Homo sapiens: one gene and its partners. The protein of the gene in region 4 purifies or fractionates together with the protein of the main gene of each other region. This does not show direct contact. Each region holds a gene or a part of one and is shown on either strand. Other genes may lie near its edges.

Region 1 (3,500 bases), on a different chromosome or scaffold from region 4:
ACTGCCATGAAGAGTGTTGGCTGAAACCGCAGTTACCAGTGTCTTTACTGGACGCGAACATCCCTAAGGACACGGCTGTGCTGCTTCCTAAGCATACGTGACCACGATACTGTCTTTCCCCGGGTCTCCTTAGCGCCATCACTGCACCAGGCCCAGCATGCCTCAAGTCCTCCAGAGCCTTCTCCTGAGACAGCACTAGGGGCCACGTCAGACCCCAGGCTGCAGCCCTTCACCGTGCCCGTCCCCGGTCCGGTCTGCCCTGCTGGGGCCGGTGGGTATCATGGGGACCCCTGTGTAGACACGGACACCGGAGAGCGTGGGACAGGAGGCGTCTCAGAGCTCCCCACCCACACACTCAAGGGTCAGCGTCACTCATGTTTCCTTCTGTTCCCATGGTGCCTCCAAAAGGGTTTCCAAACAAAGTCATCATTGATTACCCTGGAGTATGTCAATAAGCCAAACACCAGCAGCCAGATACCACCAAGCTAGTCACCACTTTAAAAGAAGATGAGCTGGAGAACGAAGCAGCCCTCTGATGGACCCAGTCAGTGCAGTCGGGACTCAGGGAGACACCCGGGGACCCCTGCCCAGCTCCCTGCCGGAGGAAAGACTAGGGAAGGGAAGCAGAGGAGGAACGAAGGGCGCCGGCAGAGAGAGTAACAAGTAGAAACTTCGCCGATCTGGGAGCAGGCCGAGAAACTCTGTTGAGCTGCTAAAGAATTCTTCATTCTCATGTGATTTTCTTCATTTCTGTCTTCCCAGTTACTACCAAGGAGCTAAGGAAAGTTCAGGAATACTTTGTTTAGTGTCGCCATAACATCTCCAACCATGCATTAAGTTTAACCAAAAGCTGCAATATTCCAGATTCTTAAATTCTCAATGGCAACCAATTTATGCTCAAGTTGAAAATCTGGCAAGCACCGTACGCCTTCAGCACACGCGTGGGTCCGGATTTTCCCATCACACACACGCTCTCCCCCGTCCAAGGTGCCTGTTTACTTCTGGTCTGCGCGGGCTCAGGTTTCAAAGAGCTTGCTGAAGGCGGCCCCCACCTCGGCGATCATGTCGGAGGTGGTGGTGGAGCGACCGTGCTTCTGGAAGGCTTGGTGGTTGCACTGCCTGGTGAGAGAGCAGGCGCCAAACGCGGCCACCAGGAGAGGGCTGGACCTGCGGAGAGGGGGACAGCAGGAGGTGTGGGGAAGTGGGCGTCGTGGTCCGGGGGCCGCAGCTACCCTGGGCTCTGGTTTTGACTCCTGTTTCAATCTCAGGACCCCAAATTGTCAATTTCAAGTCTGATATGCCCCTGAGGAGAAAGCAGGTTTATCACAGCGAAAACCACCATTAACCCTCCACTACTCCCTGGCAGGAGGCACACAGGAAACGTCTATGTACTCGGAGACAGGTCCAGGGCTAGGGCACACAGTGGGCCAGGTGTTCCCGGGGAAAGCCAGGCGGCACAAGCTGCTTAGCCCTGTTTGACTGTGCTCTCAGTGCCCAGGTGCAGAGGGCATCTGAGGTCTGAGAATGGGGATTCCTGCTACCAGGGCTCCATCTCCTGGGGGAGGGGTGGAGGCAACTCGAGTGAACACAGCAGAATGAACAGTAAGACTCCTGCCCACACCCCTACCTCCTCGGCTCTCAAATTCATGTGGACACACCTAGTTTGGGGGATGGTCCCAGACTCTGCCATCCCGGCAATGAGGACACATGAGGCCACTGGATGACAGCCCTGCCCACCCTCCAGAAGCCCGGGTCTGCCACACCTAGCACCTGCAGCCACCACCTTGATGGGCTCACAGAAGAGAAATGGAGATGCTTAGAGGTATGGGAACTGCTTGCATTCATAAAGTTCTCTGACTACAGAACTGGGCCAAGGGCCCTGGTCCTAGAATTCTGCTGTCTCTTAAAGAAAATTCACATCTTTAAGAACAAGTGTCTAAGTAAGCCTTGACCCTGTCTGTTTTCTATCTTAGTATTCTGTGTTACACAGAATAAACCACTCAACTTCCCAGAACAGCGTGCTGCTGGGCCTTGGTTGCACCTCGGAACTCTCTGGAGAGCTCTGAAGACCACCCCTGCCCCAGGCCCCATCCACAGTGAATGATGGACAGGCCCAGGCCCAAGTGTGGGGTGGAAGCTTCTGCCAAGAGGGTTCGTCTGTGCCGAGATCTCTCCAGTGAAGCCTAGAGTTCATTGTCAGTGTTTCCAGGGCTACTTATTCAACGCATGAGCTACTGAAACAGCTTAGAAAAATCAGACGGTTTCAAAGTAGAATAAATGAAGACGTGGCCTTACCCATTTGTTTTCTGTGGTCCAGCAAGGAGCGCCCAGTGTACCAGGACGCCCAGGGAGCCCGACAGGAGGTCCCCTTGCCCTCCACACCTGCGGCTGCTGCCTTCCTGGCTGCACACAAGCACTGCACAGGGCAGAAGTGAGAGCAGGTGTCAGCATGGCCATGTGTGTGAATGTGACAGTAGCCACGGGTGTGGAAGGCCGCACGGCAGGCAGAGCCACACCCTCCAGGAGCAGCCTGAGGCTCCACTCACATCCTGCCTGCTACGGCTCTTCCCTGTTTGTTCCAAGGGTTGGAGGCAGCCTCTGTTTTACAGAAGAGGAAACCAAGACACGCAGTGGTGAGGCTGCCCCAGACCCCGCTGTGTAGCACAGCAGGTTGGTGGAGACACCTGCAGCTCGGAACCGCCTCAGACGAGCCCAAGCAGGCAGCTCTGAGCAGGGCGGCGCCAGCCTCCAGCTCCTCCCACCAGCTCCCAGGGACGGAGCCCTCACCTGCAGCCCACACTCCAGAGTTCACCTTAAACCACAGCTCAACCATACAGGGCAACACCGAGCGAGGCCTCCACCGGCCTCATAACGTCACGTATGCCTGTGTATGGGAATTCTCTATTTCTTTGAAAAATGTTTTGAAAACCAGGTGTTACATTCTCTGAACCTGTTAGACCCAAGAGAGCCTTCCAGTGATTAAAAAACCCTCATCTCAAAGGTGTCAGAGTCCCTCTGAGAACATCTGCTCTGTGTTCCTTGTGCACAGCTGTGTGTGGATGAGTGTGCGAGGGCGTGTGCGAGGCTGTGAGCATGACCATGCATGTGTATAAGTGCGAGTGTGCAAGGGCGTGCGAGGCTGTGAGCACAACTGTGCATGTGTATGAATTGCATGCGTGTGCACATATGTGCATGTGAATGTGAGTGTACAAGTGTGGATGTGCACACACCCGCCCACAGACGCCTCAGTGTTCTACCCTGATTTTGGTACCTAGTCCAGCCCCACAGCTCAGCAGGTGAGCACATTCGCTGCCCATCATCTGTCCAGGCCTGAATGGAGGGGCTTCCATTTTCAGCGCTAACAAGGGCACGGCTCCCCAGATGCCTCGCTGGCGCTGGGCCCGGCCTCTGCCCTGCTCTCACTTGGCTCTTGCTGAAGCCTCCCCAGGCTCCGTGGGAGTGGCCAGTTGAGACTCGCCACACTCAGTGCCTGAGATTCC
Region 2 (3,500 bases), on a different chromosome or scaffold from region 4:
CGCCTCCTGGGTTCAAGCAATTCTCCTGCCTCAGCCTCCTAAATGGGACTACAGGTGTGTGCCACCATGCCCGGCTAATTTTTTATATTTTTTAGTGGAGTCGGGGTTTCACCGTGTTAGCCAGGATGGTCTCGATCTCCTGACCTCGTGATCCCCACGCCTCGGCCTCCCAAAGTGCTGGGAGCCACCGTGCCCAGCCTAAAATTTCTTTATATTTTTGTAGAGACAAGGTTTCACTTTGTTGCCCAGGCTGGTCTGGAACTCCTGGGCTCAAGTGATCCTCCCATCTCAGCCTCCCAAATTGCTGGGATTACAGGCATGAGCCATCTTGCCCAGCCAGCATATATTTTATATAACAATAGTTTACTTTTTAAAAATCATGTAAACATAGGCTTGTGTTGATCAGGACAGAGGAAGGACAGAATCTGAATCTGCAGGTGCTAACTAGTGGCTTTTCTTCTCTGCTGAGTGGGTGGATGGTACTTCCTGGGAAATCCCTCATTTCTGATCACCAGCAAGTGAGGGAGCTGGCTCTGGAGCAGAGGGCAGATCTAGGCTGACATGAGCTGGTCAAGTCCAAGCTGTGGGCTGTGCTCCCCAGTCTGGCATTCCCCAGGGCTGAGAGAGTCAAACTTGCCTGATGCCATGTAGACCCTGCTCCAACAGAGGAAAAATCTCTGAGAGCTCCTTCCTTGTGGGGGACCACTTACTTTCCAGCCTGAATTCCTTCCCAGGTTGATGACAGCTTTATAAGAATTCGGTCCTTGCTGATCCCAGCTTCCTTGTAGAGCTCGATGAGCCGCCTGGCTCTGGCCACCATCGCATCTTTATCAAAGGAGAGCCTGTAGGAGCAAGAAGAACCCATCCCCTCAGATCACGCAGGTTGCCCACCACGCAGAGCAAGCTGGAGGCCGGGTGTCTGCCTGTCAGTTTTGAGCAGCACCACCGTGAGCACCAACCACTGCCCTCAACCTTCCCCTCACTGGAGGTTTGCAGAATGGCTCTGACAGCAACTCACACCCAGTCTCACAAACAGAGGTCCTCAGTGGGATCCATAGGCTATAATTTGTATTAAAAAACACTGGGCCAGGTGCCGTGGCTCACGCCTGTAATCCCAACACTTTGGGAGGCTGAGGCGGGAAGATCACAAGGTCAAGGGATCGAGACCATCCTGGCCAACATGGTGAAACCCTGTCGCTACTAAAAATACAAAAAAATTAGCTGGGTATGGTGGCGGGTGTCTGTAGTCCCAGCTACTTGGGAGGCTGAGGCAGGAGAATCGCTTGAACCCGGGAGGTGAAGGTTGCAGTGAGCTGAGATCACACCACTGCACTCTACACTGGCAACAGAGCGAGACTCTGTCTCAAAAAACAAACAAAACAAATCAAAACAAAAAACACTAGCAGCCGGGCACAGTGGCTCATGCCTGTGATCCCAGCACTTTGGGAGGCCGAGGCAGGTGGATCATGACGTCAGGAGTTCAAGACCAGCCTGGCCAAAATGGTCAAACCCCATCTCTATTAAAAATACAACAAATTAGCTGGGCATGGTGGCAGGTGCCTGTAATCTCAGCTACTTGGGAGGCTGAGGCAGAGAAACGCTTCAAGCCGGGAGACAGAGGTTGCAGTGAGCTGAGATTGCGCCACTGTACTCCAGCCTGGGTGACAGTGCGAGACTCCATCTCAAAAATAAATAAAAATAAAAATAAAAAACACTAGAGATCAGTTGCTAAACAAGGAGCTCTTGGTCATCACTACCAACTGTGGGAGAGCTCAAAATAAACCTCCTCTTGGGCCCTTGGGATGAAGACCATGGGTGGAGCAGCCCCTTGACCTCATGTTGGCATCCACGTGTGCAACTGTGGACACCTGACCAGCCCATCCAGTGCAGGAGCAAGCATCCTTACCTTGCGTCTACTTCTGTGGATACTCGGCCCGGAATCTTCTTTAGTATTTCTGCTCCAAACAACACAAAAAGTTTATCAATAGCATTTTTAATCTGGTCCTCTTGTGACCTGAAATTCAAAGGGAAAAAAAGCAGGTTAGAAGCTTCTGAGGTTCGCCAGGTGCGGTGGCTCACGCCTGTAATCCCAGCACTTTGGGAGGCCGAGGTGGGCGGATCATGAGGTCAGGAGATCAAGACCATCCTGGCTAACACGGTGAAACCCCGTCTCCACTAAAAATATTAAAAAATTAGCTGGGCATGGTGGCGGGTGCCTGTAGTCCTAGTTACTAGGGAGGCTGAGGCAGGAGAATGACGTGAACCTGGGAGGTGGAGCTTGCAGTGAGCAGAGATCGTGCCACTGCACTCCAGCCTGAGCGACAGAGCGAGACTCCATCTCAAGAAAAAAAAAAAGAAGCTTCTGAGGTTCAAGTGCACAAGACTCTACAAAATAAATTCTGTTATTTCTTTGCCAAATTTCCTTCCCTCCATCTTTTTTTTTCTCTTAAAACATTTTTTTATTGTGGCCAAATAATACATATAACATAAAATTTCCCATCTTATCCTTTTTTTTTTCCCCCAAGACAGGGTCTCCAGCTAAGGCTGGAAGCACAGTAGTGTGATTATGGCTCATTACAGCCTTGACCTCCCGGGCTCAAGTGATCCTCCTGCCTCAGCCTCCCAAGTAGCTGGGACTACAGCTGCACACCTCTATACCTGGCTAATTTTTTTGTTTTGTTGAGATGGAGTGTCACTCTGTCGCCCAGGCTGGAGTGCAGTGGCACAATCTCGGCTCTGCCAGCTCTGCCCCCCGCGGTTCACGCCATTCTCCTGCCTCAACCTCCTGAGTAGCTGGGACTACAGGCGCCCGCCACTGTGCCCGGCTAATTTTTTTGTATTTTTGGTGGAGACGGGGTTTCACCGTGTTAGCCAGGATGGTCTCGATCTCCTGACCTCGTGATCCGCCTGTCTTGGCCTCTCAAAGTGCTGGGATTACAGGCGTGAGCCACCACGCCTGGCCCATGCCCAGCTAATTTTTATATTTTTTTGTAGAGACAGAGTTTTGCCCTATTGCCTAGACTGTTCTCGAACTCTTAGGCTGAAGGGATCCTCCCATCTTGGCCTACCAAAGCACTGGGGTTACAGGCGTGCACCACTGCCCCCAGCCCACCATTTTAAAATGTATTCAGCACATTCACAGTTCTGTACAACCATCACCATCCATCTCCAGAGCTCTTTTCATCATCCCAAACTGCATCCCTCTATCTTTTGGCACTTGCAAAATATTATATTTTCTATCTCTTCAAAGTTATTGGACAGACACCCAGTGAAGTCCATGATTCTGTTCCAAAATCTGAGCAGCCTTGTTAGCCCACTACACACAGGAAGATCTTCAGCTAGACGCTCAGAGGTTAGAATTCTTGGGCCAGACTGGGTGCAGTGGCTCACGCCTGTAATCACAGCACCCTGGCAGGCCAAGGTGGGCAGACTGCTCAAGCTCAGGAGTTCGAAACCAGCTAGGGCAACATGGTGAAACCCTGCCTCTAAAAACAAATACA
Region 3 (3,294 bases), on a different chromosome or scaffold from region 4:
TACACGGTGCTTTACCATCTCATTCCCACTCTGTCTCTCTCCCATGTGGCTGGAATTTTGTGTGTGCCTGCAGATTGTAGTACCACCACTGCCTGGGAAAGCCTTGAAGCGGCAGCTCCCTTTCCGAGGAGATGAAGGGATCTTTGAGGAGTCTTTCATCGAAGAAAGGAGGCAGGGCCTCGAGCAGTTTATTAACAAGTAAGCCAAGTTCCTGGGGGCTCCACTTGCTACTTTTGCCATCGTAGTCTTTCTATATGTTTTGTTTACCTCACCTTTTATTTTATTTTTATTTACTTATTTATTTATTTGAGACAGAGTCTCACTCTGTCACCTAGGCTGGAGTGCAATGGTGTGATCTCGGCTCACTGCAACCTCCGTCTCCTGGGTTCAAGTGATTCTCCTGCCTCAGCCTCCTGAGTAACAGGGATTACAGGCGCCGGCCACCATGCCCAGCTAATTTTCATGTTTTTAGTAGCGATGGGGTTTCACCATGTTGGCCAGACTGGTCTCGAACTCCTGACCTTAAGTGATCCACCTGCCTTGGCCTCCCAAAGTGTTGGGATTACAGGCGTGAGCCACCGCACCCAGCTCACCTTTTATAATGGGTACCATGATGTGGTGCCAATTGTGTGGTGGGCTGACTGGACAGTAAAACTCCATTCCTTTGAGTAGGATTCTGATCCTGTGTGTCAGGGCCTGAGAAAGCACTGCATGTTGGTTATATCTAGGGATTTCCCTGTCTTGCCCCTCTATCCCCCGTCCCCTTTACAATATTAGGGTTGAGGTGGTACCCTACTGCTGTCCTCTACTGGCTTGAACCTCAGGGCTGACCTTGCCCTTCTTCCCCTGTCCACATCCCCATCCCTCTGCTAATTCTCTCTGATTCTGAATACTACTGATAACCATCCTGGTTTCTTTATAGAATTGCTGGGCACCCACTGGCTCAGAATGAACGCTGCCTACACATGTTCCTGCAAGAGGAGGCAATTGACAGGAACTACGTCCCGGGGAAGGTGCGCCAGTAGGAGCCCCTCTCACCACCTGCCCTCTACTTTCCTGCTGAAATGACATTGGTTTTTACACTAAGCCTCTCTCTGTCTTTGATCTGAAGTTGGCTGCCCATCTCCTGGCCTGATAGACTGTCTGGCATTGTGCTCCCTGGTACCTGACTACACCATGTGGGCACTCTGCTAGGATCCTCTTCTCTGAGGAGAGGTGGGAACCCACAGGCAGATGCCCTTTGCTTGGGGTTGGGGTGGGTGGGTGGGGGGATTAGACTGGAAGGCAATTTCTTGGGCATTTACCCATGCCAGAAGGCTAACCTGGGGGGAGGGGGGCGCTTGTGCTGGTGAGGCACTTGGATACATACTGATGCTGCAAGTTCAGGGGATTTTTCTTACTCTTAGGTTTAACCAAGAACACTGAGCAGGGAAAAACCCTGCCTTTCCTAACTGCATGTATTTTTTCCTTTTTGGAAAGGTGGTAGAGACTCAGAAGCTTTCCTTGTTTTCTTCAGGCCTGCTCCCAGTTTTCTTAACAGTTTCTTTTGTTGCTTTCTCTCTCCCTTGTTGCTTTCCATGGCAGTAATCCTCCTAGAGTCCAAGCAGTCTGTTGTATGGAGCAGGGTGTGTGGGTTTTCTGGGCCCATCATTATGGCTGCTTCAGAGTCAGAAGAAAGCCATAGGGCAGTAGGGGAGCTCCTATTGCCTAGCCCCTCTCCCTTTGTGGCTCCCACTCTAGCTGCCTATTTTTGCTCATCAGCTGGTGAGTCAGTATGGGCCAGCAGTTCTCCCTCCCTAAGCCCTTGCTACTTTATGGGTTAGCTTTGCAGGTTTGGTGGCTTGAGGGGTGGGGGCAACTCACCACTGCCAGGTAACTCCCTGAAGGGTGGGAGTGGATTATCTTCTAGGCTCTTACCCGCGGTAGGGAAGGGCATCAACACTGTCTTCCTTCCATTCTCCTTTCCCCCATCCCATTTAGTGCTGCCACAGGGCAGAAGCACACAAACCAACCACACAGTCTCTGACTTCTCCTAAGCACTTTGAGTTGTTGAATGGGGCTCAGGGGCAAGAGTTTTTGCTGCCCTCCCCAGCGTGGTCACAGGGTTATTGAACTGCCTGCACTTGTTTCTCATGCAACTCCAGCATTTTCCCCAGAAGTTGAACTATGGATAGCAGCTTGGTATGGATTTCCTAAATCTTAACATTTGAAGCAGCTTCTTGAGGCTGGCAACTATCCTGGTTTCTGTCTTGGAGGGGGTGGTTTGTTTGCTGGGGCCCAACGTCTGTCCCAAGTGGTGGGGTGAGAGTAAGTTAACTTTGGTGCCAGGTGAGAGGTGGGGGCTCTTTGCTTAGACTCCCTATCATGGAAAGATTGGAGTTTTCTATGCAGGGCACTGTGGAAAAGGATTGCTGATTCTGACTGACCCTGATCAGAGAGATTAGGATTGTATTTTGACATAGGATTTGGAACCCATCTAAATGTTGAAGTTCCCTGAGACAGCTCTCCAGCTGCTGAGCCTGCGCCAGGGGCTAAGCAGCCCCTAATGAGAGGCTCTGCTCCCTTTCCCACCTCGCCAATGTTGTTGTTGCTGCCTTTTTGATTTGTATCCTCTGTTATAGACATTTTTTAAAAACGATTTCCTCTTTCATTGTGCACAAGTGCTGAGAGTCTGAGGCCCCATTTCTGCTGTGTATATATATCCTGACTCGGGGCTTTTATTCAGCAAACTGTTCATTCTTCTGTCAGACAATGTCATATTCAACTCTGTTCATATTAAACCACTGTGAAGCAAGCCTCTGTTTTCCTGCTTAAGTTGTAAATTTAGTATTCTTTAGTGTCTAGGATATGCTGGGTATTATGCAGAAATCATACAGTGTGGCCAGTGTCCTGAGGTAATGTTTTGCATTTAAATTTTTTTAGAAAGCAGAATCTTAACTTATCTTAATGATATTTACCTATCCTTTTTGCAACTCACAACTGACTTTGTCACAGAGGTAATGCATCTGCTTGCAGGAAGTAGCTGTAGGCTCAGTACCTGTTGTTTGAGTCAGATTTAGCAGATTTGGTTTTTAAGCTTGTGGGTTTGTGCTAATTTGGGCAGAATATATTTATTATATATGTGTGTGTGTATGTGTGTATGTGTGTGTCTGCATATGTAATACATGTACATAAACACACATGCATGTGTTCATCCTCTGACACACCCACACAACACCAACAAACATTTCTTCTATAGGCTTTTTATCTCAACTGACACTGTTTTTTTTCCCAAATAAATTTGACACAGGCAGA
Region 4 (3,500 bases):
AGAGAGATCTTACAGATGGACCAGAGGACGTAGCAATATGGAATTAGGAGAATGCAGACACCCTCACCCCGGCCTAGGCTGAGTGACATGGGCTTGGAGAACAAGCAACCTCTCCTATAAAAGGAGGAGCATTTTATTTCTAGCTCAGTTACACATTCAACTAACATCAGGTATGTTCTAATTCCCCAAAACAATTCTTTCCACTCAAATGCCGCTTCGTAACAATAATTCATCCTATTAGTCATCAGCCTGTCCCCTAATTAGTGTGGTGTGACCTATTGGCCACAAATTAGAAGATTTGAATGTAGATTTGAAAAGTACAGTCTGAAATGAGTCTGTGGTCTGAAATGAGTATCTGATTTCCAGCAACAGAATGAGAAGTGATTTACATACTAAGTAGCCATTTTCTCAAAACATCAAAGTGTGAGGCGCCCATCAGACACCTTCTCAGCTGATGGAACCCAACAGCAGAACTTCTGGCCCTCTCTGCTGGGAGCAGACAGCCCTGGGCTGCCAAAACAAAAGCAATTCTTTTTTTTTTTTTTAATTCAAAAATCAAGCCAGCAAGGAGAAATGAAAAAACTAAAAAACATGTCTCCACAAGTTGGATATTAACCTTGCCAAATGGAGTATCCACATATTTTTCAGTTCTTCCTTCTAAAATTTCTGGATCATCCAGGCCTGTTCCACCAATTATTCCAATCTAAGAGAGAAAAAGACAGAGAAGATTATTGTATTTGGTAATTTTTATTAGAAATAAGATTCTAAGCAAATTCATTTATTCATATGCTCTTCTCCATTCCTGCCAAGCCCTAGTTATTTTTTTGAAATCTGAAAATTACTGAACATCAATCAACAAATATTTCAAAGCCTTCCATAAAAATCAACAAACATTTGAAGGCCTTCTATATTCTATAAGTAACCAAAACGTAGGGCACCTTTTTGGACTACATCACATTTACTTCTGACTGTCTGAATTACAAGTCAGCATAGAGAGGTATTTTAACCAACTCAAGGTAGAAAATCAAACCTAAAAGTAGGCAAGTATGGTAGTGGAAAGTACCTTCTGATCAATTTTGTTTCTCTGTCAAATGGACTATAGAATAAACAATGTTCAGAAGACTGCTGGGATATAAAATATTAGGTATTCCATTTGGTATTGATTTCTCCTCACTGTTCTATTTGATAAAGAAATGAGAGATTATCTTTCCCACGCCATTAGAATCACAGAGCTAGGAGAGAATGCAGACAGAGGAGACTGAAATTGCATGAAAAGTTACCCGCATATACATTTATGAAAACAATCATTCATATATGTATGCAAATTCATATTTACATGTTGTAAATATACATATAGCATACTCATGTATATTACTCAGTAAATACATTTATGCAAATATAAATAATTCAAAAGGTAGTTATAAGTTTTTTTTAAGTTCATGCATTGTATTGCATTTTTCAGAGATTATCTTGAAAGTCCTTGTCTGAGTTAAAGAAACCTAGCACTATCCTCTGAGAGTTGATCTAATTTGATGATTAAGAAAGACAAACAAGAACAATTACAAAAATAAATAAAAATTAACTAAACTGTTAAAACTAAAAATAAGTAACAAATCATTAGGGAAATTTCCTTGGGCTGGTACCTCCTAGAGAGTAAACAGTGCCAGGCTAACTTTATTAGAAACCTAATTAATGCGAAGTGACCTGAGCATTGTTGTTTTTCAATGAAAAGCTTTAAATCTATTGTCACAAGGGTAACTAAATAAAATAAAGTAGGCCTCAAGAAAAAAATTCCAGGATTAAGAATTCAGTGAACATCTGCATTAAATAATTTTCAGGTCAGGTTACACAAGTTGAGTCCTATCAACACGTAAAAAAATGGTTACCTTTCTGGCTCAGTTTCCTGAAAAAAACAAAACACACACACAAAAAAAGCAACAACAACAAAAAACAAACAAGAAAATAAGGACAATTTAGTGAGGTTTTTACTGAAGAACTCTGCCTGTTTCCCATGACATGGTTACATAATTTGTGACTGTCCACCACAATTTCCTTAAGTGGCAAAGCCAGGCTTTGATGTTGGCGCCATCTTGTGGAGGTATATTATTAAAACCACAGCAGGTTAACATACTTTTATGTCAACGAACAAAGAGTAACCAGTATTATAGCTTTCAAATCAACAGAAGTGTTCACTTAAGTCAATACATTTAAATTACGGCACTTCAATAGAAAATAACAAAAATTCATACTGTTTTAGGAAATCCCAATCCTTCCTTAGCCTGGCTTCTCCATCTTATCCTTCATTCCGTGGACCTCTGAAGCACCACAGGTCATGAGGAGGCTAAGAAACCATCCAGCCCATATCCTCACCTGGGACACAGATATGAACTGCTGACTCTGAAATTACTCTCAGCCAGCTCCCTGGGGATTCAGCTACTAGCTTTTTAACTTATCACCACTTTGGCCTGGCTGTTTCTGGGTGTTCCCTGAGCCAGGGCATCTCAGATTCTGGATTCAACACTGGATGCTCGGGATCAAATACACAAATCGAGTTGGGCTTTGTTTGGAGCCACCCTCTGAGTTTAGGTGAACTTGCCCAGCATTGTAGCAGTTGTTGAGAAATGCTAACCAGGTGTCCCGCTGAATTTCAGAGCCCCTGAGCTCACTCTCAGCAACCCCAAGCTTCAGTCTGCACCACCTGGCTGCATAATGACTCTGCACCAGGTAGCTGGCAACTCAGCCCTCAGCAAGGAACATGTAGTAGCCCTGGACATGAAAGCAAGAGTGGCTACTGCTCTGGAATGATCTGCAGGCAAGCCCATCCAGTCACTTTACTAGGTCCAGTTGTTTACGGAAACCTACATTGTGCGAGGGATACAGGGACAAGTGTAGCAACTGAGTCCCGCCATCCCAGGAAACTGGACCTCTAAGATGGAGGCCAGCAGGGCCAAGATGTGGCCAATGTCGCCACCTGCTGGCTCCACAGCAAAGTACAACTGGGATGAAGTACCCAAGCACTGATGGCCCAATTCTATCCACATTCCTTTGAGTCTCTAAGTTTGTGTCAACTCAGTACTGCCTTAGTTATAAAGTAACTGTGTCTGTGGACTTACATGTTAAAGGCACTGTGCTAAGTGCTTCAGTGGCCTTACCTTATTTCATCATCAGGACCATAAGATGGGCCCTATAGAATGTTACCCGTTTTACAAACGAAGAAAGAGAAGCACAAAAATTAAAAACCTCGTCCAGGGGCCAATCATAAGGAGCAAAGCTGGGATACAAATCTAGGTCTTTCAGGCTTAACCACTATGATGTGCCCTCTCCCAATATCCCCTGGAGTCCTCCATAACATTATACCTTATTAGAAAAGTTATTTGTCTCCATGTTATGAGACAACATGCTCAGAGAGGTCAAGTTCATGACGAAGGTCACAGAACAAGCACAGAAACAGTGACTCCAGGTATCTGAGTGAATCATCTCAGAGGGGAGGAAAACTCTTT

What was found. Proteins that work in one complex are often made in the same cells at the same time.
Region 1: the proteins of MTAP (region 4) and NAXD fractionate together in Homo sapiens (co-fractionation; one large-scale study listed by BioGRID). This does not show direct contact.
Region 2: the proteins of MTAP (region 4) and TALDO1 fractionate together in Homo sapiens (co-fractionation; one large-scale study listed by BioGRID). This does not show direct contact.
Region 3: the proteins of MTAP (region 4) and SNX12 fractionate together in Homo sapiens (co-fractionation; one large-scale study listed by BioGRID). This does not show direct contact.

Annotation. Positions count from the first base shown.
Region 1 is NC_000013.11:110,636,045-110,639,544, reverse strand, and holds part of NAXD (ATP-dependent (S)-NAD(P)H-hydrate dehydratase), read right to left. Parts: intron 2,417-3,500; coding exon 2,296-2,416; intron 1,304-2,295; coding exon of another isoform or gene 1,168-1,303; coding exon 1,017-1,167; 3' UTR 1-1,016. UniProt on the Homo sapiens protein: Catalyzes the dehydration of the S-form of NAD(P)HX at the expense of ATP, which is converted to ADP.
Region 2 is NC_000011.10:757,464-760,963, reverse strand, and holds part of TALDO1 (transaldolase), read right to left. Parts: intron 2,015-3,500; coding exon 1,907-2,014; intron 843-1,906; coding exon 711-842; intron 1-710. UniProt on the Homo sapiens protein: Catalyzes the rate-limiting step of the non-oxidative phase in the pentose phosphate pathway. Catalyzes the reversible conversion of sedheptulose-7-phosphate and D-glyceraldehyde 3-phosphate into erythrose-4-phosphate and beta-D-fructose 6-phosphate.
Region 3 is NC_000023.11:71,058,747-71,062,040, reverse strand, and holds the end of SNX12 (sorting nexin-12), read left to right. Parts: intron 1-73; coding exon 74-198; intron 199-922; coding exon 923-1,025; 3' UTR 1,026-2,794; downstream 2,795-3,294. UniProt on the Homo sapiens protein: May be involved in several stages of intracellular trafficking.
Region 4 is NC_000009.12:21,812,636-21,816,135, reverse strand, and holds part of MTAP (S-methyl-5'-thioadenosine phosphorylase), read right to left. Parts: intron 704-3,500; coding exon 617-703; intron 1-616. UniProt on the Homo sapiens protein: Catalyzes the reversible phosphorylation of S-methyl-5'-thioadenosine (MTA) to adenine and 5-methylthioribose-1-phosphate. Involved in the breakdown of MTA, a major by-product of polyamine biosynthesis.